2 separate regions of the Homo sapiens genome follow, and region 2 is linked to region 1. Evidence: fine-mapped expression QTL. A gene starts in region 1. The other region holds a variant in brackets. All regions are shown on one strand. Distances are between the middles of the regions. Region 1 holds the start of SIRPB1 (signal regulatory protein beta 1). Region 2 overlaps SIRPB1 (signal regulatory protein beta 1).

Region 1 (15,627 bases):
GATCCTTTCTCCTTGGCCTCCCAAGTAGCTGGGACCACAGGTGCGTTCCACCATACCTGGCCAATTTTTGTGTTTTTTGTAGACACACAGTTTCACCATGTTGCCCAGACTGGTGTCTACCTCTTGGGCTCAAGCAATGCATCTGCCTTGGCCTTCCAAACTGCTGGGATTACAGACGTGAGCCACCATGCCTGGCCAAGAGGTTCAATTTCAATGTAGAGCTTTGGGTTGAGGACCTGAGTAGAACTCTTGAGCCCTCCTTGGAAGTGCCATGTTTTGCTAAATATGTGCCTCCACTCTGTGGCTACATGGAGTGTTGCACTTTTTGCATCAATGGATTGGGTGGGGCCGTGTGACTTCTTTAGACCCTTGAGTTACGAGCAGAAGTGATGGGTATAATTTGTGGGCTGTGCATGTAACTGCAAGAGCCTCTGTGGATCAATTTCTCCCTTCCTGAGACCCACAAGGCTCTAATGGGGCCTGCTCCATTGCCTGGATGCGTGAATGACCGTTGCATGCAGAACTGCCAATCCACACTGAATATGTAGCTTCCAGTAGAAATACAACATTGTTTTAAGCCCCTTGTAATATTTCACCCATAGCATAAACACATTACATAAGTTTCCTAATGCTGATGTGACAAATTACCAAAACTTAGTGTCTTAAAACAAATGTAACATTTTATAGTTCTGGGGGTTAGAAGTCCAAAATAGTGTTACTGGGGTACAATGAAGAAGAAATGAAGAACGTCAAATACACAAAGATAGAGAATAAAACAGTGGTGACTAGGGGTGAACTTAGGGGAGGTGATGGGGAGGTCAAAAGGTATAAAATTGCAGTAAGTCTGACGAAGAAGTCCAGAGATTGAATGTGCAATCTGAGGATTCTAGTTAATAATGTTGTATTGAATTCTGTATTTTTGCTTAAAAAGCACATTTTAGGTGCTGTTGACATACAACACATGCAGCATAACTATGGGAGATGATGGATGTGTCCATTTGCTTAACTTTAATAATCATTTCACTACGTATATGTATATGTGTACGTATATGAAAGCATCATGTTTTACACCTTCAATTTCCACAATTTTTAAAGAGCTTTCAGCAGAGCTATGTGTCTTCTGGAGGCTCTGTTTTTTGCCTTTTCAAATTCTAGAGTTTTCTCACATTCCTTTCTCACAGTTACATCTTCCCACCACTCTAACCTCTTGCATCTTCACATGCAAACATCCTGGAATACAGGGATGTTTCAACGTCATTCTCCAAGAATTAATCTCCTTCCTCCTTCTTATAAGCACACTTGTGATGTATTAGCTCCACCCTGATACTAGACCCAGATATTAAAATCACTGCCTTAAAAATGCTGAGAGGTAAAGGAAATAACGGACCAAGAACTAAAGGAATATAAATGTCTTAACAAAATGAGAATGTAAAGAAAGAGAAATTATAGGAAGAAATCAAACAGAAACTTAGGAATTGAAAGTACAATAACTAAAAGTTCACTAGAGGGGTCCCCCAGTGGGTATAAGCAGGTGGAAGAATAATCAGAAAACTGGAAGATGGTATAATTGAAATTATTGAGACTGAGGTATTGGTGGAAAATAGAATAAAGTATAGAGCACAGAATCTAAGGGAATTGTGAGACGTTATCAAATGTATCAACATACACCTTACTGGAGTTCCAGGGGGAAAAAAGAGAAAGAGAGAAAGGAATAGAAGATTATTTGAAGACATAGTGGACAAAAACCTTCACAGACTAGATAAAATACAGGAATCTACCTATTAAGACACAGAAGAAATGCAAGTTGAACTCAAAAATAAACTCAGAGACCCACACTAAGACACATTATAACCCAACTGTTGAAAACTAAAGTCAAAGAGAGAATCCTTAAAGCAGCAAGACAGAAGTGATTCCTTACATAAAAGAGACCCTCAATAAGATTTTCAGCTCAGCTCTTATACAAAGCACTGAAGGCCAGAAGATAGAGGGATGGTAAGTTCAAAATGTTGAAAGAGGAAAAATATGTCAATCATGAATTCTATACCTGGCAAAGTGTCCTTCAAATACAAGGGAGAAATTACGATATTCTCAGATAAACAAAAGCTAACAGAGTTCATGACCATTAAACCTTGCCTACAAGAAATGCTAAAGGGAGTGCTTCAGGTGGAAATGAAAGGATGCTACATGGCAACTCAAAGTTGTATGAAGAAATAAAGATATCCAGTTATGTGTACATGTTTTAAAAATCATGCTTCAATATCCCACAAACAAGCTGTGAGCACCCTGCCCAGGTGACCAGGTAACCAGTATTTTAAAGCTGGTCCCTGCCACAATTCCTCTTCTTGTCCTCCTCTACTGTGACCTAGTGACATTGAAACACCCTAGTAAAACCCATCATGGTTTTTGCTTGTGTCCTCCACCTTGACTCCCAGTAAAGGCACTTGCCCAGGGATCCCATCTCTCTTGCCTACCCATCTGCTTGATTGAGCCTGCTCCTTGGGAGCTCCTCCCACATGGCTTCCTGCATGGCCTGCCCTACTTCCTTCTCTAGGAACTGTGAGTATGCCTCTTCATATGAACTTTTCATGGCCATGTTAGAGTGATCCTCAAAATTCAACCAGCAGGAATCACTCTAACATTTTCAATAGTAATGGCAATGAGGATGGGATCATTCTAAACTCAGGTGGAAAGTTCCTAGGGAATGCCTTTGACTCATGACTTACTGATTTGCTACTCTGATTGGCTCCACAATTTGAGAAGGCTTTTCACCCTGATGACTTTCTTGTGCTATGCTATGTACAGCTTTGTGTTGCCTTTTGGAGTGCTGCCATGGCTCTCCATCCTGAAGCGAGGATCCTGTTCCAATATCAATAATGACATCTGCCTTTCTTCAAGAGCACAAGATGATATAACATTGGTAACACCTCTTCAAAGAAGATTCATGTGATATGCATATTAATGTCACATAATCCAGCATCAGTAAGTTTTTTCTGGGGTGCTTGTGGCAACATATTCTTCATTTACAAATTTTACTTACAAATTAAAATCAACAGGCCCTCCTGTTAGTGTCTTTAAATGAATTAACAAATAAAAGTATCTCTTCTCTGTAGAGACTTTGGCTGTGTCTTTCATGCCTCTTGGAGTCTCTAAACCACTCATGATGGCCAGACATTTTCCCCAGGGCCTTTGATGCAAATATAATGCCCCTCTCAGCTTTTGCTATACTCCATTACAACAAGAAATTTCTGGTTATCTATTGGGCTCTCCTGGCTTAGAGTCCAGATCTGGGGAGCATACTTTCCTGTCGTACTCTTTAACCATAAATTGTCCCAAAGCCAGACTCTGCTTATCTGAAATGGAGCCCACTGGAATCTAAACTTCCATGAAAATACAAAACTAAGATCACTGCCAGGTAGAGCTGCACACCTTTCTGTTAACAGTTGGCATTATTATTACTCGGTTTGTTGATGCAATAATCCTCAACCAAACACTAGCTGAGTTCAGCAGCATATTAGAAGGAATATACACAATGAGCAAGTGGTATTTATTCCTGGAACACAAGAATGTTTCAATATACAAATGACAAAGAATGTAATACACCATATTTATAGAAGAAAGAGAAGAAACACATGATTATCTCATTTGATGCAAAACAGCATTTGAGAAATGTGGACATCTTTTTGTGAAAATACCATCAATAATAGGAATATATGAAAATTTCTATAAGATAAAAGTTATATACACATACCTTATTTTATTTTCCCTTATCAGTGGCTAATTTATGATTTTATTTACCTATTTATCATGTATATTGATTACTGTCATTATTATGACTTTATTGAAAAAAGAAATCAGTAAGGTAATCGCATTTACAATTACTACCAAAAAAGCTAAAATAGCTAGAAACAGATTTACTCAAGGACATGAAAGACCTCCACAAAAAAAGCTATAACACCCTGATGAAAAATAAATAGAACAAAAATAATGGAAAGATATCCATGCTTGTGGATTAGATAATTACTTTTGTTAAAAATATACATACTACCCAAAGAGATCTACAGATTCAATTCATTATTAGTAATATTTCAATGACATTTTCCTCAGAAATGGACAAAACAATCCTCAAGTTCACATTAGTCATAGAAAATTGTGAGTAGAAAAGGCAATCTTGAGCAAAAAGACTGGAGGCATCACATTGCCTGATTTCAAACTTGACTACCGTGCCATAGTAATCAAAACAGCATGGCACTGGCATAAAAATAGACACATAGACAAATGGATCAGACCAGAGAGCCCAGATATAAACGCACACATTTACACTCAATTGACCTTTGACAAAAATGTCAAGCAGACACAATTGGGAAAGGTCAGTCTCTTCAAAAAGTGGCATTGGGAAACCTGGATATCCATCTGTAGAGGAATAAAATTAGACCTTCCTCTCACATGACACACAAAAATCAATTCAAAATGTATTAAAGACTTAAGTGTAGGATCTAAAAGTGTAAAAGTACTGGAAGAAAAGTGCCATGACATTGGTGTGGGCAATGAATTTTCAGATATGAGTCCCAAAGCACAGGCAACAAAAGAAAAATAGACAAACGGCATTACAACAAACTAAAAAGCTTCTACACAGCCAAGGAAACAATCAACAGAGTGAAAAGACAACCAGCAGAATGGAAGAAGATATTTGCTAGCCATGCATCTAATGAAAAGTCAATATACAAAATATATAAGGAAGTGAAACAACTCAATATTAAGAAAACAACCCAACTAAAATATGGGCCAAAGATCTTAAAACCCATTTCTCAAAAGAAGACATTAAAATGGCCATCAGACCTATAAAAATACTCAGCCTTACTATTCATCTGGTAAATGCAAATTAAAACCACAGTGAGCTATCATCTCACACTTGTTAGAATGGCTACTATAAAAAAGATGATAACTAGTTTTGGAGAGGATGTGGAGAAAAGGGAATTCTTGCACATAGTTAGTGGGAATGTAAATTAGTAGAGCCATTAGCAAAAACAGTATGGAGGCTCCTCAAAAAATTAAAAATAGAACTATCATATGATCTGGCAATCTCACTATTGGGCATACATCCAAAGGAAATGACATAAGCATGTCACAGAGATATCTGTGCTCCCATGTCCATTGCAGCATTATTTACAATAGCCAGGATATTAAATTAACCTAGATGTCCATCAGCAGATAAATGGAGAAAGGAAATTGGTATACACAATGGAATTCTAATCAGCCTGACCAAAGAAGGAAATCCTATCATTTCCAACAATATAAATGATCCTGGAAGATATTATGCTAAGTAAAATAAGCCAGGCACAGAAAGACAATACTGCATAATGTCTCTCATATGTGGAATTTTAAAAAGTTGAACTCATAGAAGTAGATAGTAGAATATTGGTTACCAGGCACTAGGCAGGGGGTGCATTTGGAGAGATATTGGTCAAAGGATACAAAATTTCAGTTTAGTTAGGAGAAATTAGTTCCACAAATCTATTGTACAATATGGGGTCTAGAGTTCATAACACAATTCGTAACCTCAAAAATTGTTGAAAGCAGATTTTGAGAGATCTCACCACAGAAATGATACATATACAAGGTAGGTCATATGTTAATTAGCTCAAATTAGGCATTCTGCAATGTACACATATTTCATTAATATGGTATACATGATAAGTATATACAGTTCTGTCAAATAAAAATAAAATATTTTGTTAAAAGTTTCATTGAAATTAGAAACTTGGAGAAACAATGATAAAAAATGAAATCTCCTGTGTGTGCATGTACACTTACTTATATGCATACATGCATATACATATGTATACACACATATGTATACACACATTTGCAAATATATATACACACACATATATGTATATATACACACACACACATATATATGTATATATAGACACACACATATACATTCACAAATATATATCAAAGTGTGACCTATTGTGATAGTATATAAGTTTGTTTTGTGTATTAAATAAAATTACAACACACGTTAAAATCTCATTAAAATATCTGGCCCATAGAAAGTAAAATATGTGGCCCATAGAAAGCATCCAACACATTAATAACAAATTTAGAAGTACATACATCACAGTTGTAACTCTGGTTGTTGCTAACAAGTGTGGTAGGCAATAATTAATTCTATGTTTACTTCCCTGCATTTTCTAATATTTCTGCTAGTAGCATAACACGACTAAAAGAATGAACTTTGGAGCCGGTCGACCTGGACTTGAATCTCAGCTGCTCCACTGACTGAGGTAGGGGACAATGAATGGACAAGTTCCTCCCTCTGCCTGAGTCTTTGTTTGGAAATAGGGGATAATAGTTGCAGCTTTCACACAGGGATGTTGTGAGGATTAGTGGAGCTAAAACAGGCAAAATGCTAATAACTGTGTCTACATGGTAGGAAGAGCTCAATTGTTAAACTCTTACTGCTGTCATTTGGGTACAGTGTATGTGTGAGAAAAATAATTTGAAAAGTGAGACCCCTGCCCTCTAGGGCCTGTGAGGTGACATCACAGCAGGGCCCAGTGGGGAATTGAGAGGCTGCTGTGCCCAGCCCTGTGGTTCTGGGGTCAGCTCCATGGCCTGAGAAGGGATCAGGACAGGTAACTTGTCTGGGAGCTGTGAGCAGGGTTCTCCCAGGCTGCACCAGGAAAGGCCCTCCAATCCTGCCTGTCTTGGGAAGGGGAAAGAAATTATCCATGGGAAATTTAAGAGAACCAAAGGAGGTTGTAGTACCTGTTATGGGCTGAATGTGTCCCACAAAATGCATGTGTTGAAGCTCTAATCCCCAGCACCTCTGAACGTTACAGTTTGGGAGACAGGGTCTTTAAGAAGTAATTTAGTTAAATGAGGTCATTGGGGTGGGCCTTAATACAACAAGACTGATATTCTCATAAGAAGAGGAGATGAGGACACAGACACACACAGAGGAAGATCATGTGTTTAAGACACAGAGAGAAAATGGCCCTGTATAAGCCAAGGAGAGAGACTTCAGTAGAAACTAACCCTGCTGACACCTTGATCTTGGACTTCAGCCTCCTTAACTGCAAGGAAGTAAATATCTGTAGTTTCAGCCACCCAGCCTGCAGTTCTTTGTTATGGAAGCCCTAGGAAAGGAATATAGGACCCAGTAAGCAGCAAATGTGGAACTTCTTAAAGAGGAAGAGGCCACAGAGAAATGGGTGGTAAGAATCAGGTCACAGGGGAGGGAGGAGCATGGGGGAACAGAGGACAAAGTGAGGAGCACCCTTAGGGAGGATGGTGGCTGAACACTCCCAGGATACACCACACCACTGCCCTACTCAAGTGAGCACTATTACAGACTTCACATCCTCAGTTTGGTGAAGAGAGAGGGCTGGGCCTAGAGCCACATAACCCTGTTAGGGTGTCTCTGAGCTTACTCTGTGGACTTGGGCATGTCACTTGGCCCTAGGGCCTCAGGACTGGTGAGGATTTAGATAATGATTCTTCTCTGCTTTTTCAATTGAAATATTATCAAAATGTAAGTAATTGTTGTTGTGGTGGTTGAATCGTCCTGTGGTTCAATGCCTCTGGTAGCCAGCTGCAGATCCACAGAGAAAGTGCTCAGCTCCCTGATTTTCTGCTCTCAGTCAAAGCCTAATCCTTGGCCTTTCTTGGCAGCACTTGTCATTGTCCGGAATCCCTGAAAGTCCAGGGACAGGCCATGGCTCAGTGGGCAGGAAAAAAGATTTTAACCGAAGGCAGTGCTCACCTGTGAGTCTCCCCAGCAGTAGCGTCATCAGCAGGAAAGGACTAGGAAGGTGGGGCCAGGAGGCTGGCACGGGCATTCTGGAGACCTTAGGAGCCTGCTCTGTCCAAACGTCTGTGCTGGGAAGATCGCAGACTCTGCTCTGAGGAGAGAAGACAAGCCCTGCCTCCCTTAGTTCAAGAGGAAGTGGCTGCGATGGAGTGAAGCAGTAACCTGCTTCTGGATTGTGAAACAGAAATCAGGAACAGCAAGCAGCTACAATGCAAGCAGTTATGCATGCCCCATTTCAGGAGAATCAGACAGGCTTAGCAGAAATAATGCTTCCTTCCCACCTGAGGTCTTAACTCCTTCCATGACTCCTAACCCCATCTTTATGTCTTCTTGGTGATTTGCCATTTGGTGCTCTTAAGCCAGGAAGGACCTGTGGTTATGAAATGTTTCCTAAACTTTCCATCTCAAGACCTCAGGATGTGGTTGGCTTGTGGTCTCATTCTACAACAGCCTCAACCAAGTGCTACTCAGTTGGGGCAGGATGAGGGATCACTGGACCTGCTCAGTGTTGGAGAGGAACAGGTCTGCTCTTGAAATGGTTCCCTATTCCGAACTTTTATAAATATAAATGGCAAAACTTAGCCCAAATTCAGTCTCATGTGGCCGTTAGCACTTTCATATGCCTGCACCCAGCAGAAGGAATTATTTCCTGACTTCTTCCAGGAGAGGAAGTGGGCTTAGGGTAATAAGGATCTGCTTTGTGAGGTGAGGTGGGGATTATGGGTTATGGAAAGGGGATATGTTTATTATGGGGGAGAATATGGAGGGCAGATTCCTGGAGCAGTCACATCGATTTCAATACTCTTTGCTCTGCACATAGAACACCTATTCCATTCATCACTGTCTTCAGATGGGAACTGAGGAGGGAGGGAGAATAAATACCCTAAGAAGATGTGCTAAGGAGTTGGGGAAGTTACTGGGCCTGCCTAGGTTCAGTTTTGCCTTCTAACCTTGGGATAATAAGTCTCACTGCCATGTTTTAGTGAACATCAAAAGAGATAATGACTATACATCCCTGAGATTCAGTAGGTTATTATTGATACTCATGGTGCCAGGTGAAGAGAGGGAACTCAAATATTGCTTTTAAATGGATTTCTACTGCATGCTGAGTTTCCCACCAGTGGCCTTCTCCCATGTTCCCCGGACTTCTGGAACCCAGCTTTTATGGTGTACTTGGTCTACCTCTGACACTCTGAGATCAATTTCTCCCTCTGGATCCTCTTCACCCTGCTTTTTGTCAATCTGTAGATGAATTCCTTTTCTTACAATCTCCAGCTGTGTGACTTTCAACAAGACACTTGACTTCTCTAAGCCTTAACTTAATTACATGTAAATGGAAGTTATAACATGCACCTTGTAGTGATATGGTAAGAGTAATATAAGCCATACAGAAGGTTTGATTCATATTTAATTATAACCAAAAAATTGTGGCTATAATTACATTTGTGTACAGGGTGAGTTCACTGCTTCCCTGACATACTTGTGCTTTAGAAAAATTTCCTTGGTAGGAGAAATGGTTTCTCCTCCATCATCTGTGACTAAGAAAGACCTGTCTGGAAACCTCTCTTTCCCATGCTGGGCTTGCAATCCTTCACCTATCATGAGTAATTGTCAAATGAAATTGTAAAAGTCATCACATTTCCATGCAAATTTCTTTTTCAATGTGGCAGATGCACAGAGGGTGAAATCATCACCTCCTGCTCCACACTCACAGAAATGAATATAAAAATGATAAAATCATGTTAATCGATGCCAAATTACACTTTAAAACAAGAAACTAGTCTCTATATGACATGAAGGGTAGTAGCTGCTGTGTTTACTGCAGATGTCCTGTGCTCCAGGTACTGTGCCAAGCATTTTGTCAGTTACCTCATTAATTCATCACTCTGGTCCCATGAAATTAGCACTACCATTAACCTTTTTTTATAGGTGAGGAAACTTGAGGCACGCAGGCAATAATACATTTGTTCAACATCACCCAGCTTTTAGAACTAGAACACAGGTTGTCACACTCCATGGCCTTCACTATGACACCTCTCATAAGAAGGGAGAGATATCTCTCAGGAAGGAAGCAGAGAAGAAGCCATAACGTCAATTAGGCGCAGCCTCCACAGCAAGGTTGGGATAGGTGCCATGTTCCATAAAGTGCTGACAGCCCATGATCACTCAGGGCATTATTCCTGTAAAGATTACAGTGAAAGCAGTAATCACTAAAGATTTGGGGAAAAGCGACATCATAATAAATTCAAAAACAATAACTAAAAAACAAAAACAGCAATGAAAATAACATCTTAGAAAATAATACCTCAGAAAATAAAAATATAAAATGTGAAAATATTTTTAACATTAACATATTTAGTAACCTTATAGAGATAATGAAAAGAAAGTAAATCCATAAAACAAAGTCACGTGTGAAACAAGAATAGGTAGGTGTGCAGTAACAACAGGTATCTGAGAAAAGTAATAAAAAGAAGAATTTTGAAAAAATATAATTAGTGCTAAATTGTTTAAAAAACAAATAGGTGGATGTATTAATCTGTTCTTTCTATAATTGTTATAATGAAATACCTGAGACTGAGACTGGGTAATTGATAAAGAGAAGAGGTTTAATTGGCTGATGGTTTCAGAGGCTTTACAGGAAGCATAATGCTGGTATCAGCTTCTGGGAGGTCACAGGAAACTTACAAAAATGGCAAAAGGTGAAGGGGAAGTGAGCATATTTACACGACCAGAGCAGGAGGGAGAGAGAGAGTAGGGAGGTGCCACACATTTTAAAACCACCAGATCTCATGAGAACTCACTCATCATCATGAGAACAGCACCAAGAGGGAAATCTGACCCAAAGACCCAGCCAACTTCCACCAGGTCCTACCTCCAACACTGGGGGTTACAATTCAACATGAGATTTTGGTGGTGGCACAGATCTAAACCTTATCATTTTCTCCTGCCCACTTTCAAATATTATGTCCTTATCACATTGCAAATACAATCATACCTTCCCAGAAGTCCCCCAAAGTCTTAACTCATTTCAGTATTAAGTCAAAAGTCCAAAGTCTTATCTGAGACAAGGCAAGTGCCTTCCACCTATAAGCCTGTAAAATTAAAAATAAGTCAGTTACTTCCAAGATACAATGGGGTATAGGCATTGGCTTTAGCCATCTGAATGGGAATACTCCCATTTCAAAAGAGATACATTGCCCAAAAGAAAGGGAATACAGGCCTATGCAATGCAATCTGAAACCCAGCAGGGCAGCCATTAAAGCTCCAAAATTATCTCCTTTGACTCCATGTCTCACATCCAGGGCACACTGGTGGAAGGGGTGCACTCCCAAAACCTGAGCAGCTCCACCTCTGTGCCTTTGCAAAATTCAAATTCCACGGTTCTTCTCATACTTGGTGTTGAATGCCTGCAGCTTTTCCCCGCACATGGTGCAAGCTGCTAGTGGATCTATCAATCTTTGGTCTGGAGGAAGGTGGCCCTCTTCTCACAGCTCCACTAGGCAATGCCCCAGTGGGAATTGTGTGGGGGCTCCAACCCCACATTTCCCTTCTGCACTGCCCTAGTAGAGGTTCTTCATGAGGGCTCCGGCTTCTGCCTGGACATCTAGACTTTTCCATATATCCTCTGACATCTAGGCAGAGGCTCCCAATCCTCAGCTCTTGTACTCTGCATACCTGCAGAATTCACACCACATGGAGCCACCAGGGCTTATGGCTGGCACCCTCTGAAGCAGCAGCCGAGATATACTCGAGCCCCTTCGAGCCAAGACCGGAGCTGGAGTGAATGCGGTGCAGTGGGCCGTGTCCGAAGGCCGCACACGGCAGCAGGCCCTGGTTCTGGCTCTCAAAACCATTCTTCCCTCTTAGACCTCTGTGCCTGTAAAGAGATGGTCTCTGAAATGCCTTTGAAGGCTTTTCCCAGTGTTTTCAATATTAGCATTTGGCTTCTTTTTACTCATGCAAAGTTCACAGCCTGCTTGAATTCGTTGCCTGAAAATGGGCCTTTCTTTTCTACCACATGTCCAGGCTGCAAATTTTCCAAGCTTTTATGCTCTGCTTCCCTTTTAAATATAAGTTCCAGTTTCAAGTCATCTCTGTGCTTACGCATATGAATTAGGCTGTTAGAAGCAGCGAGGTAACTGCTTCTTCTTTTTTGTGTGTGATATAAAGTCTTACTCTGTCACCCAGGCTGGAGTGCAGTGGTGCAATCTTGGCTTACTGCAACCTCCATCTCCCGGGTTCAAGTGAGTCTCCTGCCTCAGCCTGCTAAATAGCTGGGACTACAGGTGTGTGCCATGCACCACCACACCTGGCTAATTTTTTTTTTTTTTTTGTATTTTTAGTAGTGATGGGGTTTCACCATATTGGCCAGACTGGTCTCAAACTCCTAACCTCGTGATCTGCCCGCCTCGGCCTCCCAAAGTGCTGGGATTACAGACGTGAGCCACTGTGCCCCGCCTCAGGAAATTTCTTGAATGCTTTGCTGCTTAGAAATTTCTTCCAGCAGATACTCTAAATTGTCACTCCCAAGTTCAATGTTTCACAGAACCCCAGGGCAGGGGCACAGTGCCTCCAAGCTCTTTGCCAAGACTTAACAAAACCGATCTTTGCTCCAGTTGCCAGGAAGTTCATCATTTCCATCTGAGACCTCCTCAGCCTGGACTTCATGGTCCATATTACTCTCAGCATTTTGGTCACAATTCAAGAAATCTCTGGGAAATTCCCAGCTTTCGCTCATCTTCCTGTCTTCTAAGCCCTCTACACTCATTCAACCTCTGCTCATTATCCAGTTCCAAAGCCACTTCCACATTTGCAGGTAACTTTATAGCAATGCCCCACTCGTCAGTATCAATTTTTTGTATTAGTTCATTCTCACACAGCTAAAAGAAATACCTGAGACTGGGTAATTTATAAAGAAAAGAGGTTTAATTGGCTCCTGGTTCCACAGGCTGTATAGGAAGCATGATGCTTGCATACACCTGGCTTCTGGGAGGCCTCAGGAAACTTACAGTAAGGGTGGAAGGCAAAGTGGATGGAGACTTATCTCACATGGCTGGAGCATGAGGGATAGAGAGGGTGGAGGTGTTACACACTTTTAAACAACCAGATTTCACCAGAACTCAGTCACTATTACAAGAACAGCACCAAGAGGGAAACCTGCCCCCACGATTCAATCACTTCCTAGCAGTCCCCATCTCCAACACTGGGGATTACAATTTGACATGAGATTTTGGTGGGGAAACAGATCCAAACCGTATCAATTGAGTAGCTGACTGTACATAAGTGAGTAGTAAGTTAGTGAGCTGGCTCTTCATGCAGGGACAATCTCCTAGAACCCAGCACCAAGAGACACACCCAAACAAATTAATGACAATAGGTATAAATATAGCAATGGTAAAAGCTGTAACACAAAATAGTTTGAAAATGTTGCAATAGAAATACTATCTTAAGAAGCATAGTTTAAGGTAAAAAGCACAAATGGTTGAAAGAGAAATGTTTCCTTTTATGAAAGTAACAACTAACCTGAAAGATGAGTCACAAAATATTATGCCTCCAAAAATTATGATTTGAAATATATGACTCAAATATTGATAGAATAATTTCCATGCTCTGGCAGAATCTCTACTTAAAGCAGCAAGATGACTTCCTGTGAACTCCAATCCTTCAATGAAGATCTATTAGATGCATAGATACAATTTGAGTGAAAAATTTTGTGGAAATCATGTGGAGAATTGAGTTTCAAATTTAGGTTGACTTTGTGCAGTACAGATACAGCCTGGATGTCTGAGAAAACCAGGAGCCTGGGGAACCATGAGCTAAAATTCTCTTTCTGCCAAGTTTAGCCCTGCACTCATGACAGAAGGTGCAGATAATGAGATAAGGCTGTGGGACAAGTGAGGAGTCAGTGGATGTTTGAGGAGAGCAAAGATTAAGTTTGTGGGCTTAGGAATCAGAACTTCTAGATTTGAATTTAGTTCTATCAGTTCTAGCTGTGTGACCCAGGGGAGTCTGTTTAACATCTCTGTTTCTTGAGTTCTCTCAAATATAAAATGGAAGTAATCGTATCAACTTCAGAGGTTTGTTATGGTCATAAAATGGATTAATATATGTAAATTCCTTAATAATTGCTGATTGTGCTCCAAAAGTTAGATGTTATTGTTATTAGGTGGTGTTTTGGCAATAGTAATACCTTTAAAAAACAGACTCTCTGTCCTCGAGGATTTACGATGCAGTGCGACAACCCTGGCCAATGGCTGGGGGATGTGCAGATACCACCACATGATGAGTGTGGGTCACGTGTCTAGCCCTATAATCACGAAGTCATTACTAGCACCTGGGTCATGGTACAAGCATGACCTCGGGAAATCACTGTGACTAAAGAAAGGCAAATCCCGGTAAGAGTCTGCACAGATGCTCACGGAAAGTGTACTCCAAATCTTGTCTCCTGCTGGGATGGGAGAGAAGAAAATGTTCCCAAATGGAAATCCATAGATACGGGTGAGATGGGCTGAGAGGGTGAGGAGACTTACATATAAATACACCTGTGTAGAACAGGCTGCTCTCACCTGTGAGTCCCAATAGCATAAAGAGGCAAGGGTTGTCCAGGTGGGCTGGAAGACAGGTATGGTCATTGCCTGCTCTGTTGAAAGTTTATCACGGAGAGACCCCAGCCTCTGAGCTCTGCAGGGAAGGAGAAGCCCCACCTGCCATGATATCTGAGGAGGGAATTTGCTGTGGAAGGAAAAGGCCACGAGACTGGCATGGTCTCATAGTAAAAGAGGAAGCAGGCAGAGTTGCCACCCCTGGGAAGTTGCTGATATCCACCTTGGGGTTCCCACGCCTGGGAGCCTTGGACAGTAGTGGAGACAGTTTGACTGCTCTGGGCCTGCTCTCTGTCCCAGGGGCACTCACTTCATGCCAGGGTTCCCTTGGCCCTTCCTCAGTTGACAGCCCTGATCCACAGGGCCCTGTAGCTAAGGACTGAGTTTGGATTTTCAGAGACTGTAATTCTGGGTGTGGAAAGTTTGAGGTCTTGTTACTGTAGCAGCCTTTAAGGATGGAACCAAAACTCCTGGATGTCCCCTGCAAAAAGTCCCTAGGGCCAACATCAAGTAACAAGCTGAGCAAATAAGAAATGGCAACTCTTCTCAGGTCTGTCAGAGAAATGAGGTCACAGAGCAGACCATTGTCTCCAAAACTGGAAGTTAGACAAAATGATATAGAGAATTACAACTTCCTGAAGCCAAAACCTCCATGGGAACCAGTGCCAGGGTAGGAAAACCTGCACTGTAATTGAAGAATTGCTAGAGGCTTGGTGTGGGCCAGTCTGAGGAACAGATTCCAGCAGGACCCAATCGCAGGGAACTCCAACACTGTTGTGAGATTTACCTCCAGGAGCTTGATTAGGTGCTCAGAGTGAATATGAGAGAAACATTCACTTGTGCTTCCTGGGGGGTGTGGAGGGGAAAGCGAATCATTCTGAACTACACCAGAGCATTCTTTCTTCTTACCAAGCCCAGCTCTCAGGAGAAACTATTTTACCAGTGCCTAATCTGCTGGGCTTTGATCAGAGCCTAACCTACCTGGGGAAGGCAAGCACCCAACTCCAGCCCCCTCTGGCCATCCTGTCCCACCATAGGGGAAAAAACTGAGAGGCACTTGTGAAGTCCACAGGCCAGGGGCACAGGCTCACATAAGACTGCAACCTCATGTAACTGGTGATGAGCCCATGTGACATTTTTGGGAAACAAATAATTGAAAGAGAGATTGGACAACCACAGTGAAAATGCAGTGAATAAATGAGCAGT
Region 2 (15,627 bases), 48 kb before region 1:
CCCCATGATTCAGTCACCTCCTACCAGGCCCATCCCACAACACATGCAGATTACAATTTAAGATGAGATTTGGATGGAGACACAGAGCCAAACTATATCACTCCATATTAGAAATATACAAAAAAAGGCAAGCACTCTTCCAACTACTCTGGATACATTTTTACAAAGAAACAGCACTTGAACTCTCAATGTTTCTAATGCTTTGAATTGTAGTGCACAAATAAATATTTATTTCATTATATTTTCATTGTCCTCTACATTTGTAACTGAGAGTGTGAGAGTTTCTAATATTTTGACAAAAAATGGTAAAGGTCACAGAATGATCATTGTTTTTCTGATTGACTATGGAGACTGCTTTCCTGGGTTTCAGGTTGCACAGTCATTTTTGCAATCTTGCACTGCCATGAAAAGTGAGGGCTGCCTGTATTCGGCATAATACTCATCAAAATAAGGGCTAAAGAAAAATTAATTAGGATAAGAGAAATTAGAATGCCGGGATAGAGAAAATAAATAATATTTTATACAAGGTAGTTTATAGAAGGTGCCTTTAATGAAGTGACATTGAGCAGAGACTTGAAGGAGGGAGAGCGGGAGCCATGCAGCTGTGTTGGGGAAGAAGCAGAGAAGTGATATGATTTGACTTTTCCAAAGAATCACTGTGGCTGAAAAATGAAAGCCAGAGGAGTGGTCCCCAAAGAGATGATGCTGGCTGGGACAGGGAGGGGTGGTGGAGGTGAGAGGTGTGGAGAATAGGGATTTAACTCTGAGGTTTCCAGCAGCAGGCTTGGACTGGGCCCTGAAAACCAATTGTTAAATTTCAGGAATCTTGCAATCTGGTTGTTTAACTGTTGGCAGTGTGAAATTGGTCAGGTTGGGAGTTATTACACTAGAGAAATTGGCAAGCACTGCAAAACAGCTTTTGGTTTTTCCCTTTCAGAAAGTCCATTGTTAAACATTTACCATCTCATGTAAGTGGACACATGCATTTTGGAGGCAGAACTGAATATGAGTTGTAAAGGGCAGTCATCGAGGGCTCCTCAATGTTGGGCTGTGGCAGCATTTCTACCACAAGCAGCAGGACTGGGAAGGCTGCAGGATACTAGAAGAAATACTGTCTCCATCACAGAGAGAGAAGGGAGAGCTTCTTTCTTTTTGGGTTTGAGGGATAGGATGCTTGGACAAAGAGGAAAGAGAATCATTTTTTTCTTAAAATTGGTATAGGGGTTCATGTGTATTCAGGAGGCAGTAGAGAACCTCAACAAGGCTGGGGGAGTTGGGGTAGGCAGGAATCCAGAAGACAGGATAACTCTTGAGAGCCTGGAGAGAGTCTGTGGTTTATGGCCAGTCCCAAGGCGACGGATGGGAGAAGTCCTGGTGTGTTTAGATTTGGAGTGTTTCTCACCTTCTAGGGAGGTGCCATGAGTCAGTGCCCAGAGCCCAATCCCATGGCCCCTGCTCAGGACCGTGAATAGAGACACTGCTTTGGGGCATCATGGTCTTGTGAAGGTGGAACAGGAGCGTGTGGGCAGGCAGATGACCTGGGAGAGGAGGCGTTTGGAGCTGAGTGTGGGGAAGGTTCTCGCCAGCTCCTTCTCTCAGGCTGAGCTTCTCAAGAAAGGAGGAGGCAGCAGAGACTGAGGGTCCTACATGGCAGGGAAGGAAGGAAGGAGCTGTTGGAAAACACATCCACATTCATTCATCTGCTCATCATTTAAGAAATGTTTCCTGAGAGCCTGATATGTCCCTAGTGCTGGTCTCCTCTTGGGATGCCTGTTATGGGTGGACAGGCAGACCTGAGATAGGACTCTGCCAGCTCAGCACTTCTTCCAAGTCCTGATGCTCCCTCTTCCCCGCTTTCCACTCAAGCACACAGAAGGTCAGAGCAGGAACAGCCCTCAGAGCAGCCTATCTGGGAATTCTCAACACTACGGTGGGGATTACTTTGAACCCATGGAGTCCCAGCAGTGGCCTCCAAGGGACCACCCACTCAGTTGGCCCTCACTTAGACCCCTCTGTCCACCTTTTCCATGGGACTCCTAGGCCACTGGGGACAACTTTGAACCCCCTTGAAGCATCCCACCTCCTGTAATACCCTTGACCATCCCAACTCCTGCACACTCCCTGGGGGTTGGGAGCCCCATACAGGGTTCCCTGAGACTCCTGAGTATCCTGAGGGAGCCCTGTCACCTTCTGTAAACTCCACTGACCCTGAAGCTGCATGGCATGTGAGCTGGGCCCTCCTGCTGGCCTTGCCTTTCTGGAGGAGCCCTTGGTCAGTCCTCCCTCTCCTAAACTTACAGTCAGGCCTTCTGTTTCCAGCAGATGTAGATGGCAGAGACACCAACCACCAGTAGCAGCTTGGGGCCCAGGAGGAGAGCTACGAGGAGTGGAGCAGTAGGAGCCAGCGCTGCTTCTGGAAATCAGGGAAGAGGAGGAGCCATGAGAGGGGCCACCTGGGAGCTCATCCCAGGGGCCTCCACTTACCCCATCTGAGGCTACCTGGGCCCATCAATCCTCTGAAGCTTTTGAACTTGCATCCTGCTCTGGCTTTCCTGACTCCAGCCGAAAGCAAAGGCCAGGGAAAGTGGCTCCTCATTCTCACTCACCCTGTCCCAGGCTGCCAGTTTATCCTCCTGGAGGGAAAAGGTGGAGAGAGTGTGTGCTCAGGTATTCATATATGTGGCAACTGGGTTCCTCACTTGATCCTCACACGCCCATGGGGCAGGGATTATTATTCCATTCTGATGGGGAAACTGAGGCCAGAGAGTTTAGGGAGTGTCAGGAGATTAGTAGGATCCAAACCTAGGGAAGCCCATCATTATGTCCCCAAGGGTGACTCCTGAGTCCAAGACAAGTCCAACACTCCAGGATCATGAGAATGATTAGTAAAGGGTGGGCAGGTGGTGTGAGGATGGATTCAGAGTGAGAGAGTTGCATGCTGCCCTTCTTAGCCCCAGGGGCAGGGAGAGGACCCCATATTCTCATGATCTCAGGGAGCCCTCCAGGGACAAGACCCAATTAAACCTGCTGGCTGGAAAATTCCCTGGTGAGTCAGGGAATGTGCCTCGGGCTTGGAAGGGCCTCAGACATCATCTCTCCTACCTCAACCCCAGTGCAGATGTCATCTGAAATCTTTCTGTTGGACACAGAGAGTCAGATCTACGGAAGCTCATGTTGGGACTGTTTGCATTTTTTAAATAAGGGGTTTTGGATGTTAAAAGTAACAAAGGTATTAAAAAAAATTTTTTTTAAAATAAAATGGTGCTGGTGGGTCCTTAAGGAAGGAATGGAGACCTCAGCATCTATAGCCGCTGGAGTGTTGGAGTGTTGCAGGCCGGCAGTTCTCAGATGGGTGGCTCTCTGGGGCTTTCTCTCCTTTGAGGAGAGCTGCACTGCCCAAGTTTATTCCTTCTAAGGGGCAGCCCACATGAGAGATAGACTGCATTGGGAATATGAAGGGCCAGCCCTTCCCCTCAATTTGAAAAAAATCTACAGGACCCTCCGGCCTTTTGCCTCTCTGCAAGAGCAGCTGCATCTTTGTACTGCCTGCACTGTGGCTCAGCACCTCCCTCCTCCTACACTCCTGCCTCCTCATTCCTGAGGCATGTTGACCCTGACAGCACTCTAGGATGCCTCCTGCATTGCTTTATGCATCCTCAGGTGGCCTCCCAGAGAAACTGTCCTTGGGAAGTGGTCTGGAAAGAAGACTCTAAAATATAAGTTGGGAATCTGATTACTCATCAGCTAGCAATGAGGACCCCAGGGCTGGTGGTGAATGGGACTGGAGAAGCCGTGACTTGCTGTTGTGTTGCGATTGATAACACTTTCACTGGCACTAAACTGGGATAGTGTTACCACAGGAAGGAAATTCCTTGCCATTAGCCTTTTGAAAACAGATTGGGAAATGGTCGTTATAAGAACTAAGGTGTTAGCTGTTGCTGGGCATGAACTCTTGGGAGGAAGGCAATGAGAAACTAAGAGTGATTCATCATGAGTTAAAGTTCAGCTGGAAGCCAGAGGACTTCTTGGCAGCACTGCAGATTCTTATTTCTTGGAGCCACAGGGCAGAAGGAATAGAGAATTGGGTCCTGGGCATCATAGAAGAGTAGCAGAATCACAGCGGAGCATGAATCTCAGTTTCAATGGCTGCTATGCTGGGATAGGGCCCTGATGGGGAAGTTGTGGGACCCTGAAATGTGGAAGGAGACATTTGGGTCAAACCACTCAAAGATTGTCAGTTGACTTCAGAGTTACTGGGGACAATTGCAGTGGCATCGCTACTTGTCGCTATAAATATCCTCCCCAAGCCAAAAGAAGAAACAGAAAAGGAAAAGTAAATTCTACACAATCCAGGCCCTAAATATTGCTTGAAGAGAGAATGCCAAACTGCAAAATGGCTGAGTCAAAAGGGAACACTCACCTAACCCTAGGGCACAGTCTCTCACTAGGCTCCCATGCCACTGATGCAGCACGTCACAGAAGGCATCCTGCAGTTTGCCTGCCAGCCTAGACAACCTAAAATGCATTTCCAGACTTAGCATATGTGCCAGGATGCCATGTCAGACACACTGAAAGAACCCAAAAATGGCAGCCCTCTCTCAGCCCCAGTGGGTGGTTGGAAGTCTAAGAAAAGACTCAACCTTGTCCAGATGGTACAGACTCATCTCATCCTGTGCCTCCTTGAGAAGTACAACTATGAACCCAAGAAATATCATGAGGAGCAGGCATAGGAGAACTTCCAAGGTGGAAGAGCGAGGTAAGAACCTGAGGACTGAGGAACAGCCCAGCAGCCAAACAGCAGGGACTCTATGCCCAAATACCAGCCCCCAGCCACAGAAAGTGATGAAGGGAGGACATAGAAAAGAGGAGGTCTCAAGTCAATAAATATAAATCCCGCACTTAAAGAAACTACAAAAAGTAGGGCAAAGTAAACCCAAAGAAAGCAGGAGATAGGAATTAATTTAAAAAAAAAAAGAGAGAAGAGAGCAGATAATTAATGAAACTGAAAACACAAAAACAATACAAAAACCCATTGAAACAAAGAGTCAATCTTTTGAAAACACCAATAAAATGGGAAAAAACTCTAGCATGACTGATGAAAAAGAAAAGAGAAATGACACATTTTTAGTATCAGGATGAAACGTGGGATACCATTGCAGACCCTGCAGACACCAAAAGGGTTATGAGAGGATATTATGAACAACTCTACACACATAAATATGACAACTTAGATGAAATGGACCAAAAGTTATGCAAAACACAACTTACCAGGGCTCACTCAATAGGAAACGAAAAATGTGAATAACCCTAAACTATTAACGACATTGAATCTATGATTATAAAATATCCAAAAATATCCCTGGGGCCCAGATCTTTCAAAGGAAAACACAAGCATTTAAAGATAAATTAAAACCAAATTTAACACACAGGAAAATGGTTCTAAAAAATTTGGTAAAATGTGAATGTATGCTCCATTTTAGATGATATGAGGAAATTATTTTAATAACTTTATGAAATTTAGTGATTTGAACACTTAAAATTTAAGTGGACAATGACACTGGTTTTGTGAAAAATGTCCTTGATCACATGATCCCTCAATGTGCAACTGCAGGTGCATGCGTGAGCAAGTTTTCAGTGGACGTGACTATGCACCTTCCACACATCTCTGATGATTGGGGACATTGTTTGTCTTCTATTTCGTGTCTTTCCTCTTCTGGCAGGCAGGGACATGAACAAATCCGTGACTCAGCACTGACCCAGGAGATGACGCAAACATCATAGGGTGTTTTGGAAGGAACCTGAGTCCTTATTCTTATTTCCTGGAGCCTCAGGGCAGAAAGAATAGAAGATTGGGCCCCAGCCATCATTAGAAGAGTAGCAGAATCACAAAGGATGTTGAATGTCAGCTTTAATGGCTTCTATGCTGGGGTTGGGCCCTGATGGGGAAGTTGTGGGACCCTGAGATGTGGGAGGATGTATTCGGGTCAAAGCACTCAAAGATTGTCTTTCGACTGGAGTAGAGGGACCCCTCCTGGTATTAAAAGAGAGGGAAATAAGACATATTTTGGTTATAGAGAGGGGGAACACTGGCCAAATTTGGGTCCTTGGGACAAAGCGCAGCAGAAAGGGAAAGTTTCTCTAATTAGCACAAATTCCCATTATAGCCTGGTAGTGAGCCTGTCCTCAGGGACTAGATTTACCTTCATTACTTTGGACCAATAACCTGGTCTAATGACAAGAAGTCTTCAACAACATCCCTCATTACTTCCTAAGTCCTGGTTTCCCCTTTGGTAAAACTCCAAGCTCACTGGGTGTTTGAAGCAGGAAAGGAGATCAGAGATGAACAGAAATTTGCATATAGTAAATGTGCAGAGTGGTTGTGATTATTGTTGGTCAAATATCACCATCAGAACACAAAAGAAGCCTGTGCTGTGACCAGGTCACCTGGGGGTCTGTCCAGGCTTAAACTTCACTTGTCTTTCTGAAATTTATAGAGCAGATGCTGGAGACTGGTGGCTGAGGTCACAGATGCGGATGGAAAAGTTTAGGATAGAATAGGGACAAGGTAGAGGTTAGAAAGTGTAAAAGGCAAGGTG[C/G]TGTGCTGGCGAGAAATGCAGAAGAAGGCGAGACACAGGACTTCATAAACAAACGGATCACCTCCCTCTCTCTTTTTTCCTTTAATGTATATTTATGTCAAAATATCTATCAAGTTGTGCATCAGACTTGACGCACAGTTTCTCCTGGTAGATGGGGCTTAAGGGTGTCTACAAATGGCCAATTGTTACCTTGAACCTTCTAAGTAGTGGTGACCCATGGAGTGTAGGATTTTAATGTAGACGTTAAAATTCTACTTTATATTTATAGACTTCTAGCTTATTTTATGACAAGCATGAATATTGCTTTTAACATTAAAGAAAAAGACAAAATTTAAAAATGGGAAGTAACCGCACCATGGGTGATATCTGAGCCGTGCTCCTTCTGGTGCGCTGAGATCTCCAGGGCATAGCTTTTGCTGACTGCTTGCTGCCCATCATGCTCCACCTGACAGGTGAGCACCACATCGTCCCTGTGGGCACAGGTGTTCACCAGGAGCCAGCTCATCCAGTTGTAGGTGCCATCCTTGTTCTCTATGAGGGTCGAAGCTGTTTCTGTCCGGGACACATTTCCATTCTCCAACCAGGTCAGCTGTAGTCCCCGGGGGTAGAAATTGCTCACCTGGCAGGTGACGTTTGCCTGGTTCTCTGCCCTCATGGGCTGTTGAGTAACCTCCAAGGTGGGTGGAACTGAAACAGCACAGGGCAGAAGCTCTGATCTTGTGGCACAGACAGATCACAGGGAGGGCTAAATAACGTAGCTCCCACCAACACAGTGAGGGCATCACCAGGACAGTGCTAGGCAGGCAGCAGGTGCTCAGACATTGAGGGCACTCGTTGCATATGAGTGAAATTACTAAGCACAGTGCCTGGCGCACAGTAGGTGCCCAAGGACTGTTAGCTGCTGCTAGGCTAAGGATGAGTGAAATCTACAAGCACAACCCCTGGCATGCAGTTGGAATGTAAGAACTGTAGCAAAATCAGTGAAATCGCCGAGCACATAGTGATTTGGCTCCTAGTAGGTGCTCACTAATTGTAGTTGCTCTTGGTGAAATAAATGAAACTCTGTAGCCCAGAGCTTGGCACATGGTTGCTGGTCCCCTGACAGCTGCCATTAAAATGATAGTAAGTGACCGGCTCACCTAGGTGCATGGGAGGTGGACAACACAGTTAGGAATTAGATTCCAGGCCTTTCAAGCTCTGGAGCCTGGGGAGAGGGGAGTGGGCTTGGCAGCCAGGTGTGGGCTTGGGCTGGGTGTGAGGGTCTTCTACCTCGGATGGCCTCAGACAAGTTGGCAGTCCCACGAAGAGGGTCCCCCTGCAAGGTGATGTGGGCTATCTCGCAGATGACTTGAGAGTGAACGTCCCCACGGGTCAGCACCACCCTGGCTGTGCTGTGGATGCTGTAGGACACACTGTCTCCTGCGGGGTCCACGTTGGTCTGGAAGTCTGAGAGCTCATTCCCATTTTTGAACCATTTCAGGGTGATGTCTCTGGGAGAGAAGCCATGGGACTCGCAGGTGAAGCTCACTGTGTGCTCAGGTGTGGCCCTCACCGCAGGGCCCGATACCACGGGGGCAGAGGGTTTGGCTACAAAAGGACCATCGATAATCAGGAGACATGACTCAGATGACCATCACTGATGATAAGCGTTTGACATGTTAAGAACCTTCTGAGACGTTAGTTTTTAATCTTTCTAATAATGTCGTGAAGGCAGTGTCCTTATTCTCATTTTACAGATCAGGACACAACAGCTCTTAGAGGTGAGAACCAGGCCATGGTCAGACAGTGAGTAGGGGCAGGGCCCAGAGGGAAGTCCAGGCCTGAGTTCAAAGTCCTCTCCACACAGGGAGACTTCCACCAATCTGGGCATAGGAACAAAATTACTGATTGGTCTCCCTCCATGTTATTAACTGGTCCTAGCTGTCCTCCCCCGGAAGGCTCACTAACCTCAGAGAGGGCATTTATAGAAGCCAATACAGGGATCAATGGCAAAGTGGCACCACCGTGAGAGCTGCAACCAGGCTGCTCAGCCCAGGACAGGGGTGGGCTGACAACCCCAGCTCCTCATCCGCAAAACAGGAGGACGGAGGACGGCGTTTCTACTTCCTGGGATGTCGCCAGGATTCAATGGGGCAATGGAAGCAGTTTTGCTCTGGATCAAACACAGAAGATGCTTCCCCCAAAAAACACAGATCTATCTTTAACCCAGACTTTACAGATACACAGAGGTCTCTCTTTAGGTATTATAAAAATATGAAACATTCCGTATTTTTCTTTTCACAAATATTTCGTTCTGTCAAATAAAAGGCATTAATTAAGGATAAAGCTTTAACGTAGAGCCAAGAGTTTGTAAGAGCATTGGAATCACACCTGCTAAAGGTCAAGCCACAGGATGTTGCAGTAGATAGACCTGGATAACAACTGAAGCCAGGGTCCGTGGGATTTTGATCTCTTTCACCTGGAGTACTTTAATGAAATAACCAATGAGAGTGGGTTTGCAGTTGAGGATTTTCAACCAGCTAATGAACTGTTTCCAAAAACAACCTTTTGTGAAAATCCCCTATAAAAAACCTGTCCTGTATTGCCATACGGGACACTATTCAGGGTTTCACTGACTCAGTGTACCCAAATTGCACCTCTTTATCTTTCAGATAAATGCTATTTCCTTTGGCCTTCCTAACAATCATTTTGCTGTTGTTGTTAGTTGTTCTAATCTGCTGGAAGTCCTAAATTTGAAAAGAGGAAATTTTTGGGAATCTGAATCTTCAGTTAGGACAGGTTTGGGTGAAAAACAAGGATCACTGAGTACTAAGAAAGCCAAAGGTGGTTAGCTTTTTCATCGTTAATTAATTACAAGAGACAAAGACCCAGGCCACACCAACAGACAGAAACCTATTCTGGGCCTTGAAAGCAAACACATTGGAGAATCAGAACAACGAGTGCAGTTTCTCCATGTAGATGAATTTTAAGGGTGTCTGCAAATTGCTAATTGTTACCTTGAACCTTCTGCCGTCCTCTTAGAAAGCACATATTATACGTTTGACTTTGCCAATATTAACTTGCTCCCTGATATGCGTGAAATAATGTGAGAGCACAGTAAGGAGGGTGTCACTTGAAGATGTCAAGTCTTTGAGACACCAGCAGCATGGGTGTCCCTAGAAGGCTGAGAGGCTGTCTTCAGTTCCGATTTTTTGAGGGCTTCTTGGCAGCCTGATGCTGGCTGCTCTCTCTGTACCTCTCAGCACTTCAATCCTCCTTCTATTTGTCAGAGGGGGTCCTCATGTGAGCCCTTGTGTAGGGCGAGACTCTGAGAGGATCCTTGGTGGCCAAGGGCCAAAAGTAGATAGAAACCCCACCCTGGGAAGATGAGTGAGGGTAAGTGCAAGGGCATAGCCTGGCATGTAGTAGGTGCTTAATAAATAACCCCTGTGACTGTAATCATGAGGTTTGGTCATTACTGCTTCTGGAGCTGCATAGCTATTCTTTAGGCAACAGAACAAAGAGGCACACAAACACCAAGGAAAGGCTCAAACCCTACTCACCGCAGCTGCCAGAAAAAACCCAAATGATAAAAGGAGCAGCAACCACCATGTTTGGCGAACTGGCTTTCAAGTAAGATCACAGGGGAAGCTGGAAGCATTTTGGAAGAAGGAGGGAAAAGATACCTCAGTGACATCTGGGAGTGCTGAGGGAGGGAGGCTTCTGGGGCTGAGGAGTGAGGATTTGCTGGGACTCCAGCACGTGTTTAGATACAAATGTTTTCAAGACAGAAGGTTCCCCAGCCCTGAGGCTGCATCTGAGCCAGGCTTTGTCCCAGTCTCCTATCTTGGGCCCTGAGGCCAGTAGCATGGGAGGGGTCCTGTTCAGGCTTCTGGGGCCTCCCAGAATGTTTCCAGAATGGCTGTTTTGAAGCACCCATGACCCAAAAAGCTGTTCTCAAAGCCCCAAAACCTGGGGCACCGCTTTTGCTAGGGGGCTGTGTATGAGAATCTTCTGGAGCCATTAAGAACTTTAGATATCCAGGCCCAAATTAGATGCAATTAAATTGGCATTTTAGGGGGGTTCCTGGGTCCAGCTTTGCAAACTTTTTTTTTGATAGTTTTCCCAATGATTCTAATGAGCAGCCAAGGTTGAAAGCCACTGGACTCCAACCCAAACCCCATTTATACTTGGGGCCTAGAGATGCCCTGACCTGTCTGAGGTCACACAGCTTCACCCTAACACAACTCACCTTTATTGAGCATTTACTGTGTGCTTGTTGATGCCCTAAGCATTTTACACAATATCACTCCTTCAGACTCGGCCCAGTCTGTGAGGTCAGTGTTACCATCAAAGGGTGAGGACATCGAGGCCTATGGTGGTGAAGCACCTTGTCCCAGGTCACAGAGCCAGGAAGTGGCAGAGCCGGGAAGAGGCCCAGGCAGCTGGGATACTGCCTGTGTTCTCCTAACGACAGTTCTGCAGAAGCTCAGTAATAACCTGAATGACACCACCATTAGGGGCTCTGTGCACATCCTCTCCAATCCTCACAGAACCCAGAATAGGCCATGATAATCAGCATCTCACCGATGGGGAAACCGAGGACTCAAGGGAAGGCAAGACTGGCCCAAGATCACACGATCTTGAAATAACACCTCACTTTGGGGGTGCCTACAGTGTGCTAGGTGATTTACAGAGAGAACCTTACGCTTACGACTTTCCTAAAGGAGTCCATGATTGTCTCTATTCTACAGATGAAGATGCCGTGGCTGAACAAAATGAAGGCACTGTCTCCCGATTCTCCATGTGTCCCAGTGGGCATTTCCTGTGTCCCACCAAGCACTTATGTCCATTAACAGAGCAAGTGTTCTAACTTCTTGAGCTCCAACACTGACTGCCACCTCAATTGTCCCTTTGAGATTCTAGACTTCATGCAATGTTAGGGAGAAGCCTCCCTCCTGGGTGCCCAGGCCTGGTTACCCTGCAGCCATAAGCAAAAGACAGTGGGCTCCTGACAGCCGGAGGGGAGAATCTCAACTCTTGCTCACATGGGCCCCAAACACTCTCTAGGAAATGCCTCATCTCCTCATCCTTAGTCCTCAGCACCATGAACGGGCAGATACGTGCTCTGCTGGGCTGCAGGAGGCTCGACTCTGCTCATTGGACGCTGCTGAGTGAAGAGGAAACAACACAACATGGGGGAAGAGTCCTAAATGCCTCATGTGTGTTGAGACCTGTCCTTTAGGAACCGGCTTGGCATATCATGAGACATGCGCAGGGCCTTTCTGATGGGAGTGTGAAGACAGGCCCTCCTACCCCTACAGGGTTCTTGTTTTGTTTTTAATGCTTTTTGCTGTAGAACTGAACAATGCAAGAGTTTAGAAAGAGAAGGTTGGAGCATTTCTCCACTCTTGAAAAACCACAGTTGAGTGTCACAAAGACAAAGGCTGTGAGTCAGGCTGCGGGGTTCCAGCCTTGGCTCCCTGACCTGCTCCCAAGTCAGGTCTCCTCTCTGAGCTTCAGTGTCCTCATCTTTAAAGGAGGTAGCAAATGGCTTCTCCCTCATAGCACTGGTTATAAGGAGACTCTGGCACAGTTGCTGCTCTCTGGCCCCCTTCCCCACCTCCCTCCTTTCTCATGTAGCTCATCATTTAGGCCGAGAGCATGGCAAAGAGGAGTGAGTACTTCACTAGGAGTGAGCAGATCTGAGTCACACCTGAGCCACCACTGGCTGTGGCTGCCTGGGCTGGGGAGGCACCACCTGGGCATTTCAGTGTCTTTGCCAATATTATCTGCACAATCAGGATAAAGCCACCTTCCTTGTCTAAGTTCAAGGGTTGTGGGGAGCTGATTTCAGTCATTACTGAGCAATGTACATTTTCATGTACATACATGTACATGAAAGCATCATGTTTTAGGCTTTACATATACACATTTTTTTAAAAAGCTGTTAGTAAAGCTATGTGTCTTCTGGAGGTTCTGTTTTTTTGCCTTTCCAAATTCCAGAGGCTGCCCACATTCCTTTCTCACAGTTACATCTTCCCATCACTCTAACCTCTTGCTTATATCCTCACAAGTCCTTCTCTGAGAATTAATCTCCTTCCTCTGTCTTGTAAGGACCTTTCTTATGTATTGTGTCCACCCTGATGCTAGAGCCAGATGTTAAAACCACTGTCTTAAAAATGTTTGAAGTGGGGCCAGGCATGGTGGCTCACGCCTGTAATCCCAGCAGTTTGGGAGGCTGAGGCGGGTGGATCACCTGAGTTTGGGAGTTCGAGACCAGCCTGAACAACATGGAGAAACCCTGTCTCTACAAAATACAAAATTAGCCAGGCATGGTAGCTCAAGTCTGTAATCTCTGATTGCTACATCATCTAGAAGGGAAATTAGGCAATATTCTCAAATATGAAAACACACTATCCTCTGACCTAGAAACACCACTTCCAGTGGGAATCTCCCACCTGAGTAGGGTGACACATGTACAAGGTCATCCACTGCATGATTGTTGTAGTAGCTCAATGTTGGGAATAACTTACATATCCATCAACAGAAGACTGTAAAATAAATTTTGGTATTTCCATAAATTGGAGTATTTTTCAGCTGTAAAAAAACTGGAGCAGTTCTCTATGTCCTGATGTGGAATCTCGATATGAAATGACAGGGCTTACATTTGGGAGAAGTTTTCTAGTCACCAATGAGCTTTAGTATCTGAATGTGAGGTGCATTCTTAACATTTGGGAAACTGATGAAAAGAGAAATGCTGGCTCTCTGACACCTGGCTCTGTTTGGGGAACTTTTATCTAGCACCTATGATGCACCAGGCTCTTCTATGGAGACAGCGTCTAATGCTGGGGAAGGAAGGAGACTGCCACGATTCAGATATGGACTCTGGCTCCAATTCTGTCACTAACTGGCCCTGTGACCATGGACAAGGCCCCTGTCATGTCTTGGCTTCAGTCTCCCATCTGTAAAGGGGGTTGGGCTGGATGGTCTGAAGGTCCTTCCTGTGCTGACATGCCAGAATTCAGCAGTTAAGACGAGGCTTTTGGGGCTCTGGCAGGAAACCCCACATAAGCATTGTTGCTACCTTATATGGGGAACCCCTAAGTCACCCACTTGTGGGACCTCTTTCCTGAGGTGAGGGACATTCTGAGATGATGCAGCTCTGCTCGGAGCCCATGGTAACTCTGTGACTCAGTCCCCAAATCACAGAAGGGTTTCCCAAATAGACCCACAGCAAATGCCAAACATATTGGCATCTCCTCCCACCAAGCCATCAGATTCAACCGTGAATGTGCCTCCGAGAAATCTTCCCCGTGGGGTGTTTCTGAAGATTAAATTAAAAAAAAAAACAACCACGATTTACCCTCTCCATGCCCTGGACGGATTTCTCCTCATTAGAAGGGAAGAGAATGTAAGCTTGGTGGGGGAGCGCTTTAGGCTGTTTCATTCACTGCTGTTTGCGCAGCATCCAGGGCAGAGCCTGGCACACAGTGGGGTCTCAGTGACTGCCTGTTGCATAAAGAAGGGACTTGGCCACCCTGAGGGGGAAGCATTCTCTGGAGGCAGAAGGCAAGGTCCAGCCCTGTGCCTGGACAAGTCACTCAAATTGTGAGTTCCCTCATCTGTGGAACCAAAGGGCTGGGTCAGCTTTGGAAACACAAGAGCTGTAGAGCCGCAGACTGGGGATGCCTTCTGTCCCATCATTTACAAGCCGTGGAGCCTCGAGCGACTGCCATGACATCTCCAAGCCTCAACTCATGTGATCTGGAGAAAGGGTGACATCAGTTCATGAAAGGGTGGCTGCTCAGCCACCACCACACCTGGCTGTTGCTCCAAGAATGGATAATGTAATTATTGAGTTATTGTCACACACCAGGGGACAAAGGAGGCCCACGCTGTACTCACCGCGCACAGACAGCTCAGTGCCTGCTCCAGACTTAAACTCCACGTCGTCAGGGCTCCCTTTCCGGAACTTCACACAGTAGTAGGTGCCGGCGTCTGCTGGGGTGATGTTACTGATGCTGATGGAAAAGTCCAGGTTGTTTCTCTTTGTGAGTTCTGAAACAGTTGTTACCCGTGGGAAGTGGCCTTCTTTCTGATTGTAGATTAATTCCCGGCCTGCTCCAGCTCCTCTAAACCACATGATGGGCCCCACAGGGATCAGGGACGTCATAGCACAGCGCAGAGTGGCCGACTCTCCAGCTGCAACTGATACGGACTTTTCAGGCTGAATCACCTGTAGCTCGTCCTCACCTGCCACTCCTGGAAAGGAGCACAAAGCAGTCATTTCTTCATCCTTACCTGATTCTCTGTGTTTCCTCAAGTGTTTATCAATGGCTTTCATTGACTGGGTGCACACCAGGAAAAGGCCTTGAGCTCAGCCCACTACATGTATTATCTCATTTAACCCTCACAACTGGCCTGTGACGTAAGACTGTAATACAAGCGAGAACACTGAGGCACAGAGAGGTTCAATTTCCTTTTCCTTACTTTCTTCTGTTCTTTCTGTTTGCTTTCTTTTCTTTTCTTTTTTGAGACGGGGTCTTGCTCTGTCTGCTGCCCAGGCTGGAGTGCAGTGGTGCAATCACAGCTCACTGTAGCCTCAATCTTCCAGGCTCAAGAGATCCTTTCTCCTTGGCCTGCCAAGTAGCTGGGACCACAGGTGCATTCCACCATACCTGGCCAATTTTTGTATTTTTTCTAGAGACACAGTTTCACCATGTTGCCCACAGTGGTCTCTAACTCTTGGGCTCAAGCAAACCATCTGCCTTGGCCTTTCAAATTGCTGGGATTATAGGTGTCAGCCACCGCGCCTGGCCAAGAGGTTCAATTTCAATGTAGAGCTTTGGGTTGAGGACCTGAGTAGAACTATTGAGCCCTCCTCGGAAGTGCCATGTTTTGCCAATTATGGCCTCCACTCTGTGGTACATGGAGTGTGGCACTTTTTGTATCACTGGATTGGGTGGGGCCCTGTGACTTCTTTAGACCCTTGAGTTATGAGCAGAATGATGGGTATAATTTGTGGGCTGTGCATTTAACTGCAAGAGCC

Evidence for each region.
Region 2: its variant is fine-mapped to the expression of SIRPB1 in whole blood (TOPMed, PIP above 0.99).

Annotation. Positions count from the first base shown.
Region 1 is chr20:1,612,098-1,627,724 of GRCh38, forward strand. SIRPB1 (signal regulatory protein beta 1) reads right to left here and starts at 7,912. Exons shown (of 6, transcript NM_006065.5): 1 at 7,772-7,912. The coding sequence starts at 7,847.
Region 2 is chr20:1,563,855-1,579,481 of GRCh38, forward strand. SIRPB1 (signal regulatory protein beta 1) reads right to left here. Exons shown (of 6, transcript NM_006065.5): 2 at 14,484-14,840; 3 at 7,866-8,183; 4 at 6,951-7,283; 5 at 2,299-2,413; 6 at 1-1,643. The coding sequence ends at 2,301. Among named protein-coding and RNA genes, the nearest start is that of SIRPD, 14 kb to the left of the region's middle. The variant C/G (reference allele first, on the strand shown) is at 6,597.